Regions from separate parts of the Homo sapiens genome. Here region 1 is linked to region 2. A link means that fine-mapping ties the variant in region 2 to the plasma level of a protein whose gene starts in the linked region. Region 2 holds a variant in brackets. A gene starts in the other region. All regions are shown on their forward strands.

Region 1 (5,346 bases), not on the chromosome of region 2:
AAAAGGGAGAGTGCTCCGCCGGGAGCGGGGAGCGAGTAGGGTGGCGTCTCCAGGGATTTAACCTCCTACCCTCAGTTCCATGACGCCACCCCCTCCCTCCAAAGACTGGGACAGCGCCTCCATTTTTGTTTTGGGGAGGAAGGGCAGGGGCTTGCGGATAGAAGGGGGTCAAAGGAACGGTGATTATCACCTGTGAGGGGAAAGGGGGTGCTGTCCTCCCTCCTTCCCTTTTCCTCAGCCTGCACCCCCTGCAATCCCCCACCTTTCGGGGTCTCCCCCTCCTTGTTGCTAAGGCCCGGACCGTCATCCCAGCAACAGCCTCAGTCATGTGACCGGCAATGGCGGCGCTGACGAGAGGTAGGTGAGCCCGGCGCCCCCCACACCCACCGCGCGCCCCCCGGGCCCCGCTCGCACCCCTCACGCGCCCCCCGCTCCCCCGGCGCCCCCTCCTCCACCTCCCCTCCCCGCGCGCGGCTCCGGGCTCCCCGCTCCGTGCCCGGCCGATCATCTTTCTAGCACCCTCCAGCCTTGGCCTCCATTCGGGGGTTCTGAGGGCTGCGATCGGGCCGACATGCACCCCCACCCGGCGGTGGGGATCCGGGGGCTTTGGCTACTGAGGGATGTGGGGAGTTGGTTCCGGGTCGGGTCTTGGAGGAGGCCGTGGGGGGAGGGCGGGAGCTGCTTCAGTGGATGCCCCCAGGGACCCTTGCCCATCCGGGCTGTGCCTCCCTCTGGCCTCTGTCTGGAGGGAGAGACTGGTTCCTTGTCCGGCCTGGGTTGCCACAGAGGAATCACAGACCCACCCTAAACTGGGGCCCCGCCTCCCTTTTCTGTGCCAGCAGGACTTGGACCTAGGACACCTAGGTCCTGGGTCCCCCGTGATGGGGAGAGAAGTGTTGCATCGCGGATAGACTGTATGGGCTGAGACTCTAGGGTTCCATTTTCACTTATGAATCTCGAGGTGCATCTGGCCTTGGGGGACGATGATGGAGGCATGAAGGGACAGCTGCTCCTTCTTGGATCAGTCAATAAATGGAGGTCACACTAATGGCCCTTCTTTCTGTTTGAGCTGCATTTGGAAGTGTTGTGGAGACAGCCCCGTAGCCCAATGCGACCAGACTCAGGGAAAACATCAGGCCCCTCCAGCTGAGCCCTTGTGTGAGCCCCGCCCCTCCCTAAATGCCAGACTTGGGAGCTGACAGACAGCACTGCCTGTGCTGGGTTTAAAAGGTGACAATGAGAACTTTGTTATTGCAGGGGCTGCTGCCACTTTGTTCACATCCTTAACAGACTTCAGCAGAAGGGACTGAGTTAGCTCTCAAGGAAGGCTCCCTGGCAATAGGGGCTGAATTATTTGGCAATGTGGAGCAGGCGAGGAGTTGGGGAGCATAGGAAATATTCCGGTCCATGTGATCTGAGGGAGGTGGCAAGAAGACCTCCACCTGTGTGGGCGTTTTCTTTCCTGACTTCTCTTATGTGTGCCCTAGGCTTTCTTGGGGGCCTCAGAGCTGGGGAAGAAAGGAGGAAGGTTAGCATGTTGAAGTTCCTTCTTGAGCAACTTGGGGAGAAGCTGATAATGGAATTCTGCAGAGAAGAGAGGAGATGGAAGGGGAGTTTTTATTTCTGGGTTGGCTGAGGGGAATGGTAACATTTGCCATCATAACTTTTTACCCTTCCCCCACTCCCAGTCCTGGTCAGCTGAGTGGAAATAGAAGGATTTCTGCTGCCATCATCTTCCATGGGCTTTCCAGGTATCTCCCCCGCAAGGGATCCTCAATTTTCACCCTTAAACTGGTTTCCTTCATTCCATGTTCCAAGTAATGCCATTCTTAGTAACCTATACCCAGGTTTCTGTCTCTGTTCCATGGGCTGCTGGGTTGGGGGCCATGGGAATTGGGAGAAGGGGTTTCTCACTTTCCTTCCATTTTTCCGCCCTACCAGGTCACACGACCTACAAGTAGGGAGCAGGGAAAGAAGAGTGAGCCTGCATGCCAATTCTAAGCTCTTCAGGATCAAAGTAAGCAAAAAGGAGGGGCAAAGAGTCTCCCTCCCCTTTAAACAGCCCATTTTTCCCCAAGAGGTGGGAGGGGCAAGTTGTTTCTATGATCTGGGAGAAATGACAGGAGAAACAAGACTGATACTTGGCTTAGATGATAATATAGCTCTGGAAACTTTTTTGCTCTTCAGTGGGTTTTGGGTTTGGAAGATAAGGGGAGACAGAATATGAATTTGGGTGAAGGGTTGGGGATTAGGCTTTGAGAAAACAGAGGTAATAGAGGGTTTGGAAGGAACCTGAAGTAGGAGGCACTGATACTTGTCAAATGGGGACCCCCCACCCTGAGTCCCTTTCACCCTGGGGGCAGTGTCGTTCGTCCTGTCCAGAATGGCAGCCTGTGGAGGCACCTGCAAGAACAAAGTGACTGTGTCCAAGCCCGTGTGGGACTTCCTGAGCAAAGAGACCCCAGCCCGGCTGGCCCGGCTTCGGGAGGAGCACCGTGTGTCCATCCTCATAGATGGCGAGACTTCTGACATCTATGTTCTCCAGCTTTCCCCACAGGGTCCTCCCCCGGCCCCTCCAAATGGGCTCTACCTAGCCCGGAAGGCTCTCAAGGGGCTGCTAAAAGAGGCAGAGAAAGAGCTGAAGAAAGCTCAGAGGCAGGGGGAGCTGATGGGCTGCCTGGCTCTGGGGGGTGGAGGGGAGCACCCTGAGATGCACCGCGCAGGCCCACCCCCTCTCCGAGCAGCCCCACTTCTGCCCCCAGGAGCTCGGGGGCTCCCCCCTCCTCCTCCCCCCCTGCCCCCACCTCTTCCTCCTCGCCTTCGGGAGGAGGCAGAAGAGCAGGAGAGCACCTGCCCCATCTGTCTGGGGGAGATCCAGAATGCCAAGACATTGGAGAAGTGCCGGCATTCATTCTGCGAGGGCTGCATCACCCGGGCTCTGCAGGTGAAAAAGGCCTGCCCCATGTGCGGCCGCTTCTATGGGCAGCTGGTGGGCAACCAGCCCCAGAATGGGCGGATGCTGGTCTCTAAGGACGCCACCCTCCTACTGCCCAGCTATGAGAAGTACGGCACCATTGTCATCCAGTACGTCTTCCCGCCCGGTGTCCAGGGGGTAAGAAGACCATGGCCTGCCCTTACCCTTTGGCTTTCCCCAAGCTCTGACCTAGGAAAACCGGGTGAGGGTGAGTGTGCTTGTTAGATGTGAGACAGTCTTGCTGTCTTCCACTGTGCCCTCCTACTCAGTGCCCTGGACCTAGGAGGTCCCCGTGAGGCCCAGCCTTTCCATCCCTGTGATCCCAAGGCACACGTGAAAATCAGATATGAGCTAGGAAAAAAAAAAGCAAATCAGATATGAGAGGAAGGAATTGCATATTATTTCCTTGATGAACACAAATACTGTGCTGACATCTTGGCAGAGGTAAATTCTGTGGAGGTGGTGGCTTAGGGGAAGGGAGGCACAATAGGAAGGGATCTGACCAACCCAACAGAGCCAGGAGCATCACTCTGTAAAAACAGGAGTAGTCAAGGCCTATAGGTGTCTTCCTGCTGGACAAAGAGTAATGTGCAATTCTGGCTGCAGAGGGGTGAAGAAGCTGCACAGAAGAGTGATGGAAAATGGAACAAGTTAGACAGTGGCAGAAACATTAGGAGTATTTTCAGGTGAAGGGAAGGCTGAAAGATAGATTATTCTGTCTTCACATTTTTGCTGAGTTGTCTGGAGTGTAGGGACCAGCTAACTTCCATCACTTCTGAGAATCCATTTGTTGCTGAATGGAGACTTGAGGGATTGAGACAGCAGAAAAAATCTCTTAACACATAAGGATTATGCTCTGAAACAGGCTCTTGCTGCCGAGGCCGTATAATCTCTCCTTCTGTGGAAAGCTGTCAGCCTGTTGCTGCCCCGTTCGCATTAGCTGGGGGTGCTCAGACAGAGACTAGCCTGGATGACCCTCCTCTGGCATCTGGGCCTTAGGATGCCTGGCTGCTCACTGCCCACTCTGCTTCACCTTCCTCCCAGGCTGAACACCCAAACCCAGGAGTTCGGTATCCTGGCACCACACGGGTGGCCTACCTCCCGGACTGCCCTGAGGGCAACAAGGTGCTGACCCTGTTCCGCAAGGCGTTTGACCAGCGTCTCACCTTCACTATCGGCACGTCCATGACCACAGGGAGACCGAATGTCATCACCTGGAACGACATCCACCACAAGACCAGCTGCACAGGGGGACCCCAGCTGTGCGACCCCTCTTCATTTCCTTTCCCTTGGCTCCTCCCCTTTGTTCCATTTCCACTGAGGGACCCACCAACCCCTCGCTCACGGAGCCTCCTAACTGGAGAGAACCACTTCCAAACTGTTCAGCCATCTCAGTTTCTCCTACATTCAACCTGGTCCTGGTGTGCCCAGCTTAGCCTACAAAAATAAGCAGAACTGGGCTAAATTATCTTGGATTTGGAGGTGTCCTCCCTTAGGGGAGGTGGGGAGGTGTCTGAGCCACCTAGAATGAGGGTGAGCATGGGGATAATAGCAAGTTCAAACAGCTAACAACCCTCACCCTCATTTCTCTTTGCTCCCAGGTTTGGGTACCCAGACCCCACCTACCTGACCCGGGTGCAAGAGGAGCTGAGAGCGAAGGGTATCACAGATGACTGAAGGACATCGCCTTTGCCAAGGCCCCTGCTGTCTGCCTCTACTAGGACCCAGCAGAAGCCTCTTTCTCCTCTCTGCCCCCTGCCCCCCACACCACACCTGTAGGGGACCTGTCTGACTGGGAAGGGAGTTCCGAGAGGGAGGGGGCAATCCCTTCCCCCATCCCCCACTGGCCAAGTGTTTCAATGCAGTGTGAGCCACTCCCTTCTGGCAGAGGCCGACCTCCAAGGCTCTGTTCTCCCCTCCCCGTGTACATATACTCCCGGTTTCCCTGCCCCTCCATTGCCCTTGGCTTTTTCTGGTATGTGCTGTGCTCCACGACCAAGCCGAGAAAGGACCTAGGGTGGGGAAGGGAGGGTCTCTTGATTCCTAACCGCCCCCACATACTGCTCCACCGCTGAACTTCGGGTGCCGGGGAGGAGAAATTGGGCTGATGTGAGCTCCCCGTCACCCGCCATGGAGCCGGCTGTGTGTGTTCATCAGATACAGTTCTCCCTTAACCTTGTCCTTTCTCTCCTGTGTCTCAGTCTCCGTCAGTCTGTCTTTCTCCGCTCTTCTCTGACCCCTGTGAGGAACCTCCTTACCCTGTTCTGGAATCGCTGCCAGACTGTAGCTTTTAATTTAATAAAAATAAAGTAAAATATGCAACTCTTTATGCCACACCCGTTCTTTTCCAGGGACTGGGTGGGGGTGGGGTG
Region 2 (5,368 bases):
CTAGCCCTTGTCAAACGGTTACACATCTGGTCCACCTATACCTGATCAACCTGGCAGAAAAGCTACTATCAGCAGAGACCCTCTGTCCATACTCAGTGACCACGGACAGCTTCTGATTTCCCCTCACCTTTAGGCATGCTCAAGTCCAAGTCAGGTACCAGTCCCTGTGTCTCTCCAAACACAAAAGTCAAGTTGGAGGAATGGTTCTGAGAAACTCTTCACTTGGCTGTAATTAACAAAGCAACAGTTCCTTCTGCCACCAGAGGGTGTGCAGCAAGGATGGGCAGCACAACCTGCTACCAACTCTCTCTAAAGAAATTCTTTTCTCTTTTTTTTTTTTTTTTTTTGAGACGGAGTTTCACTCTTGATGCCCAGGCTGGAGTGCAATGGCGCAATCTTGGCTCACTGCAACCTCCGCCTCCCAAGTTCAAGTGAGTCTCTTGCCTCAGTCTCCTGAGTAGCCGGGACTATGGGTGCGCACCACTGCGCCTGGCAAATTTTTGTATTTTTTTTAAAGACAGGGTTTCACCATGTTGGTCAGGCTGGTCTCAAACTCCTGACCTCATGATCCGCCCTCCTCAGCCTCCCAAAGTGCTGGGATTACAGGCATGAGGCACCACACTCAGACCCCTTGCCCTCATTTTTGACAGATAGTTTTGCTAGACACAGATCCTTGGTTGATAAGTTTTTTCTTTCAGCACTTTGAATACGCCATCCCACTGCCTTCTGGCCTCCACTGTTTCTCATGAGGAGTCACCTGTTCATCATATCAGGGTCTCCTTTTCGGTGATGAGTCATTCTTCTCTTGCTGTTTCAAGATTTTCTCTTTGGCTTTCAGAATTTTATTATAATGCATGTGGGTGTGGATCTCTGTCTTGTGTTCATTCTACTGGGGTTCTTTTTTTTTTTTTTTTTTTTTTTTTGAGATGGAGTCACGCTCTGTCGCCCAGGCTGGAGTGCAGTGGCACAATCTCAGCTCACTGCAACCTCTGCCTCCCAGGTTCACGTCATTCTCCTGCCTCAGCCTCCTGAGTAGCTGGGACTACAGGCGCCCACCAACACACCTGGCTAATTTTTTATATTTTTAGTAGAGACGGGGTTTCACCGTGTTAGCCAGGATGGTCTTGATCTCCTGACCTCGTGATCCGCCCACCTCAGCCTCCCAAAGTGCTGGGATTACAGGCGTGAGCCACCGCACCCGGCCTCTACTTGGGTTCACTGCATCTCTTGGATGTGTAGATTAATGTTTCCATCAGATTTAGATCATTTTAGATATATTTTTCCTTTGTTTTTTTTTTTTTTGCCCTTTTCTCTCCTCTCCTCTGGTATTCCCATCAGCTGTATTTTGATGAGCTCAATGATGTCCCAAATTTCTCTGAGGCTCTGTTCATTTTTTATCATGGTAGATACACATAACAAAATTTACCATTTTAACCACTTTTACACGTACAATTCAGCAGCATTAAGTATATTCACAAAGTTGTTCAATCATCACCACTATCCATTCACAGAAATTTTTCATCATCCCAAACAGAAACTGTATACTCATTAAAGACTGGCTCCCCACTCCCCTTTTCCCCAACCCCTGTTAATCTCTATTATTCTTTCTGTCTCTAACTTTTATAGTTTGATCATAACAATCCCCTTTTCATCAGGTTTTCATGGAGCGTAGGAGGGGTAATTCTTTGACTTAAAAATATAATTTGAAGAAAATGACTGCTTAGGAGAGAGAGACAGAGAGAAAGAAAGTGAGAGAGAGAAAGAGAGAGAGAGAGAAAAGAGAGAGAAAGAAAAGAAAGAATAAGAAAGAAAGGAAGGAAGGAAAGAAAAAAAAGAAGGAAGGAAGGAAGAAAGGTGGGAAGGAGGACGGAAGGAAGGAAGGAGGGAAGGAAGAAGTAAGGAAGGAAGGAGGGAGGGAGGGAAGGAAGGAAGGAAAAGGAGGAATGAAGGAAGGAGGAAAGTAGAGAGGGAAGAAGGGAGGGAAAAAGAAAGCTATGAAAGCCATTGACCACAGGTCGGGATGGGAATGGGGATAATTCATCAATTTTTCTACGCTGACATAACTCCCGAGAGTTCTGACTATTCATTGGCTTTAACAGATTTGCCAAGAGGACAAATCTCAGCTTAATTAGCAAAGGATAAAATCATAAAATTAGTGGATTCCCTAATCTGGGCATGCCACATAGATGAATATGATTGCAAGGGCAGGTTTGGAAAAGGGAATGATGCCTGAATATACTGGAATTCCCAAATATTTTGGACCTCAAAGTTTGGGCTTTTAAGGAACTACCATTTAAATCTGCAGTTTGCTGTAAAGATGGTTAACAGAGTTCTGGGCCAGGCACGGTGGCTCATGCCTGTAATCCCAGCACTTTGGGAGGCTGAGGCGGGCGGATCACCCGAGGTCAGGAATTTGAGACAGCCTGGCCAACGTGGTGAAAACCCGTCTCTACTAAAAATACAAAAATTAGCCAGGCGTGGTGGCATGTGCCTGTAATCCCAGCTACTCGGGAGGCTGAGGCCAGAGAATTGCTTGAACCTGGGAGGCAGAGGTTGCAGTGAGCCACTGCTCTCCAGCCTGGCCAACAAGAGCAGAAACTCTGTATCAAAAAAAATAGTTCATTGTGCAGAATTTAACATATTTGTCAAATAATAGGCTGACCAGCCATGGAGAGAAGCTCCTATTATAGTCACAACCTATTCAAAAATATTAATGTGGGTGGGGTGCAGTGTCTCATGCCTGTAATCCTAGCACTTTGGGAGGCAGAGGTGGGTGGATCACTTGAGGCCAGGAGTTCAAGACCAGCCTGGCCAACATGGCGAAACCCCATCTCTACTAAAAATACAAAAATTAGCCGAGTGTGGTGGCACATGCCTGTAATCCCAGCTACTTGGGAGGCTGAGGCAGGAGAATCACTTGAACCAGGGAGGCAGAGGTTGCAGTGAGCCAAGATCACGCTACTGCACTCCAGCCTGGACGTAGAGTGAGATTCCGTCTCAAAAAAAAGAAAAAAATTATAG[T/C]GCATTTGAAGTGCATTCAAAAACTATGAGAACACGATTTTAGCTGTGAGCTTGTAAAAACAAAAACAAACAAAACTTATGAGAACACTTGTACCTCCCTAGCCTGAGGGGCATGATGTATAGCCTCTTTCAGGACTGTTGGTACATGTCCCTTTGAATATTCACTGTGGAGAATCTTTTTTAGCAAGCGTAGCTAAATTGTATCTGCTCCTCTAAACATTTGCCAGAAGAAGAAATAGTTTATTTTCAGGTTCAGGCTCTACACATTCTCTTTCTTTTCTTTTCTTTTTTTTTTTTGACAGAGTCTCACTCCTTCACCCAGGCTGGAGTACAGTAGCGTGATCTCGGCTCACCGCAACCTCTGTCTCCTGGGTCCAAGCAATCCTCCGGCCTCAGCCTCCCAAGTAGCTGGGATTACAGGAGCCTGCCACCATGACCAACTAATTTTTGTATTTTTTAGTAGAGACGAAGTTTCACCATGTTGGCCAGGCTGGTCTTGAACACCTGACCTCAGGTGATCCACCTGTCTCCGCCTCCCAAAGTGCTGGGATTACAGGTGTGAGCCACCGCACCGGGCCCTCTTCTCCCACCCTTTCCCTTTCTTTCTTTCTTTTTTTTTTTTTTTTTTTCTTTGACAGAGTCTCACTCTGTCGCCCAGGCTGGAGTGCAGAGGCATGAGCTTGGCTCACTGCAACCTCCACATCCTGGGTTCAAGAGATTCTTGTGCCTCAGCCTCCCAAGTAGCTGGGATTACAGATGCGTGCCACCACACCCGACTAATTTTTTGTATTTTTAGTAGAGATGGGGTTTAGCCATGTTGGCCAGGCTGGTTTTGAACCCCTGCCCTCAAGTGATCAGCTCACGTTGGCCTCCCAAAGTGTCAGGATTACAGGCATGAGCCACCACACCTGGCTTCTACACATTTTATGAGCAATAAATAATGTTGATAATCTCTCAGTTTTCTTCTTTCTTCCTGTCTCTCCCTCCCCAGTGGTCCTGCAGCAGTTCTAATCCCATTCCCATCACCAGTTGATCAGAGACCTAGTATTTTTAGGAAAGTAGCAGCCTTTATTTATTTTTTATATTTATATTTATATTTTTACTTATTTATTTATTTATTTTTGAGACAGAGTTTCACTCTTGTTGCCCAGGCTACAGTGCAATGGCACAATCTTGGCTCACTGCAACCTCCGCCTCCTGCGTTCAAGTGATTCTCCCGCCTCAGCCTCCAGAGCAGCTGGGATTACAGGCATGTGCTACCATGCCCGGCTAATTTTGTATTTTTAGTAGATCTGGGGTTTCTCCATGTTGGTCATTTTTAGTAAATCTGGGGTTTCTCCATGTTGGTCAGTTTCCATGTGGAGAGAGAATTTTGCCATGTTGCCCAGGCTGGGCTTGAACTCCTGGGCTCAAGTGATCTGTCTGCCTCAGCCTTCCAAAGTGCTGGGACTACAGGTGGGAGCCACCATGTCCAGCCTGCATACTTTTTATGTTATCAGAAATGCTATCTTTCTCTTTGGTTACATTTCTTTTTTTTTTTTTTTCGTAAATCAAAGTACTATTTTATTAAATGAGTTATTTTACACAATATGAACATCAATATAATTACAATTGTAAAAAATTTTTTTATAACAAGGATGGACTGATTTTCATATTTCCAAATCAGAGTCAACTGTACATTTACACAGAATTGTCTTTGCATGAAGCCCAAAAGGGAACAGCATAAAAAATGAGTGTTTCTGTAGCCCCTTTATTTTTGCTGATCAACAGTTTGTTAGAAAAGCAGCTGCAGGTATGTTACCTAAGGTCTGAGACAGTAGAAGAGTCAAAGGTGTCGTGAATTCACCTGTAAACAACCTTATGCCTGAACATCAGCTAATTCTGGAGGAAGTGAAGTCTTAGGATGCTTGCTCTCAAAGTGCTGCTTGAAGGTCTTAGGGTCTGGCATTCGTGTCCTACAGACAGTGCAGGTATATATTAAGGCAGCTTTGGCAGCAGCCTTTTGGTCATGTCCTTGTTTCTTCTTTTGTCCAGCTTGCTTTTTGGCATTATTCTGCTGAGACTGAATTTTCTGCTGTCCACGAGCCATATCCGGGCCAGGAGAATCTTGCGTCGGAGAGACAGTGCAGCGCGAGAGGGCCGGGAGAGGACGCCGGAGGGAAAGGAAGGGGGAGCGCGCCCAGCATCGCTTGGGCCTCCTCCACCCGCTCAGGAGGGGAAACAGGAGAGCCGGGAGCACAACAGCCTCGCGCGCCCGCCGCCGCCTCAGCCTTAGGGGAGGCCACTACGCCTCTGGTTACATTTCTTGATCATGGTATCTCCCCAGCTAGGTAAGTATCTCTTTGAT

Alleles and levels. Alleles are on the strand shown, and positions count from the first base shown. The strength of an association depends on the size of the effect and on how common the allele is.
For the plasma level of the protein whose gene starts at base 323 in region 1, allele T in region 2 goes with a higher level than allele C (weak association).

The links. PIP is the posterior inclusion probability: the model's chance that the variant is causal. Protein levels are from antibody-based Olink assays in UK Biobank. Linkage for the fine-mapping came from a reference panel and not from the study's own genotypes, which makes the PIPs less certain.
Region 1: DTX3 starts here. The variant in region 2 is fine-mapped to the plasma level of the DTX3 protein (UK Biobank, PIP 0.93).

What each region holds. Positions count from the first base shown.
Region 1 is chr12:57,604,502-57,609,847 of GRCh38, forward strand. It overlaps DTX3 (deltex E3 ubiquitin ligase 3), which reads left to right and starts at 323. Exons shown (of 7, transcript NM_178502.4): 1 at 323-357; 2 at 1,070-1,230; 3 at 1,689-1,751; 4 at 1,942-2,017; 5 at 2,364-3,112; 6 at 4,019-4,236; 7 at 4,576-5,301. The coding sequence starts at 2,017. The coding sequence ends at 4,651. RefSeq lists enhancers at 1-204, 205-717.
Region 2 is chr1:224,170,597-224,175,964 of GRCh38, forward strand. It overlaps the pseudogene LOC724084. Among named protein-coding and RNA genes, the nearest start is that of DEGS1, 10 kb to the right of the region's middle. RefSeq lists an enhancer at 1-464. The variant T/C (reference allele first, on the strand shown) is at 3,022.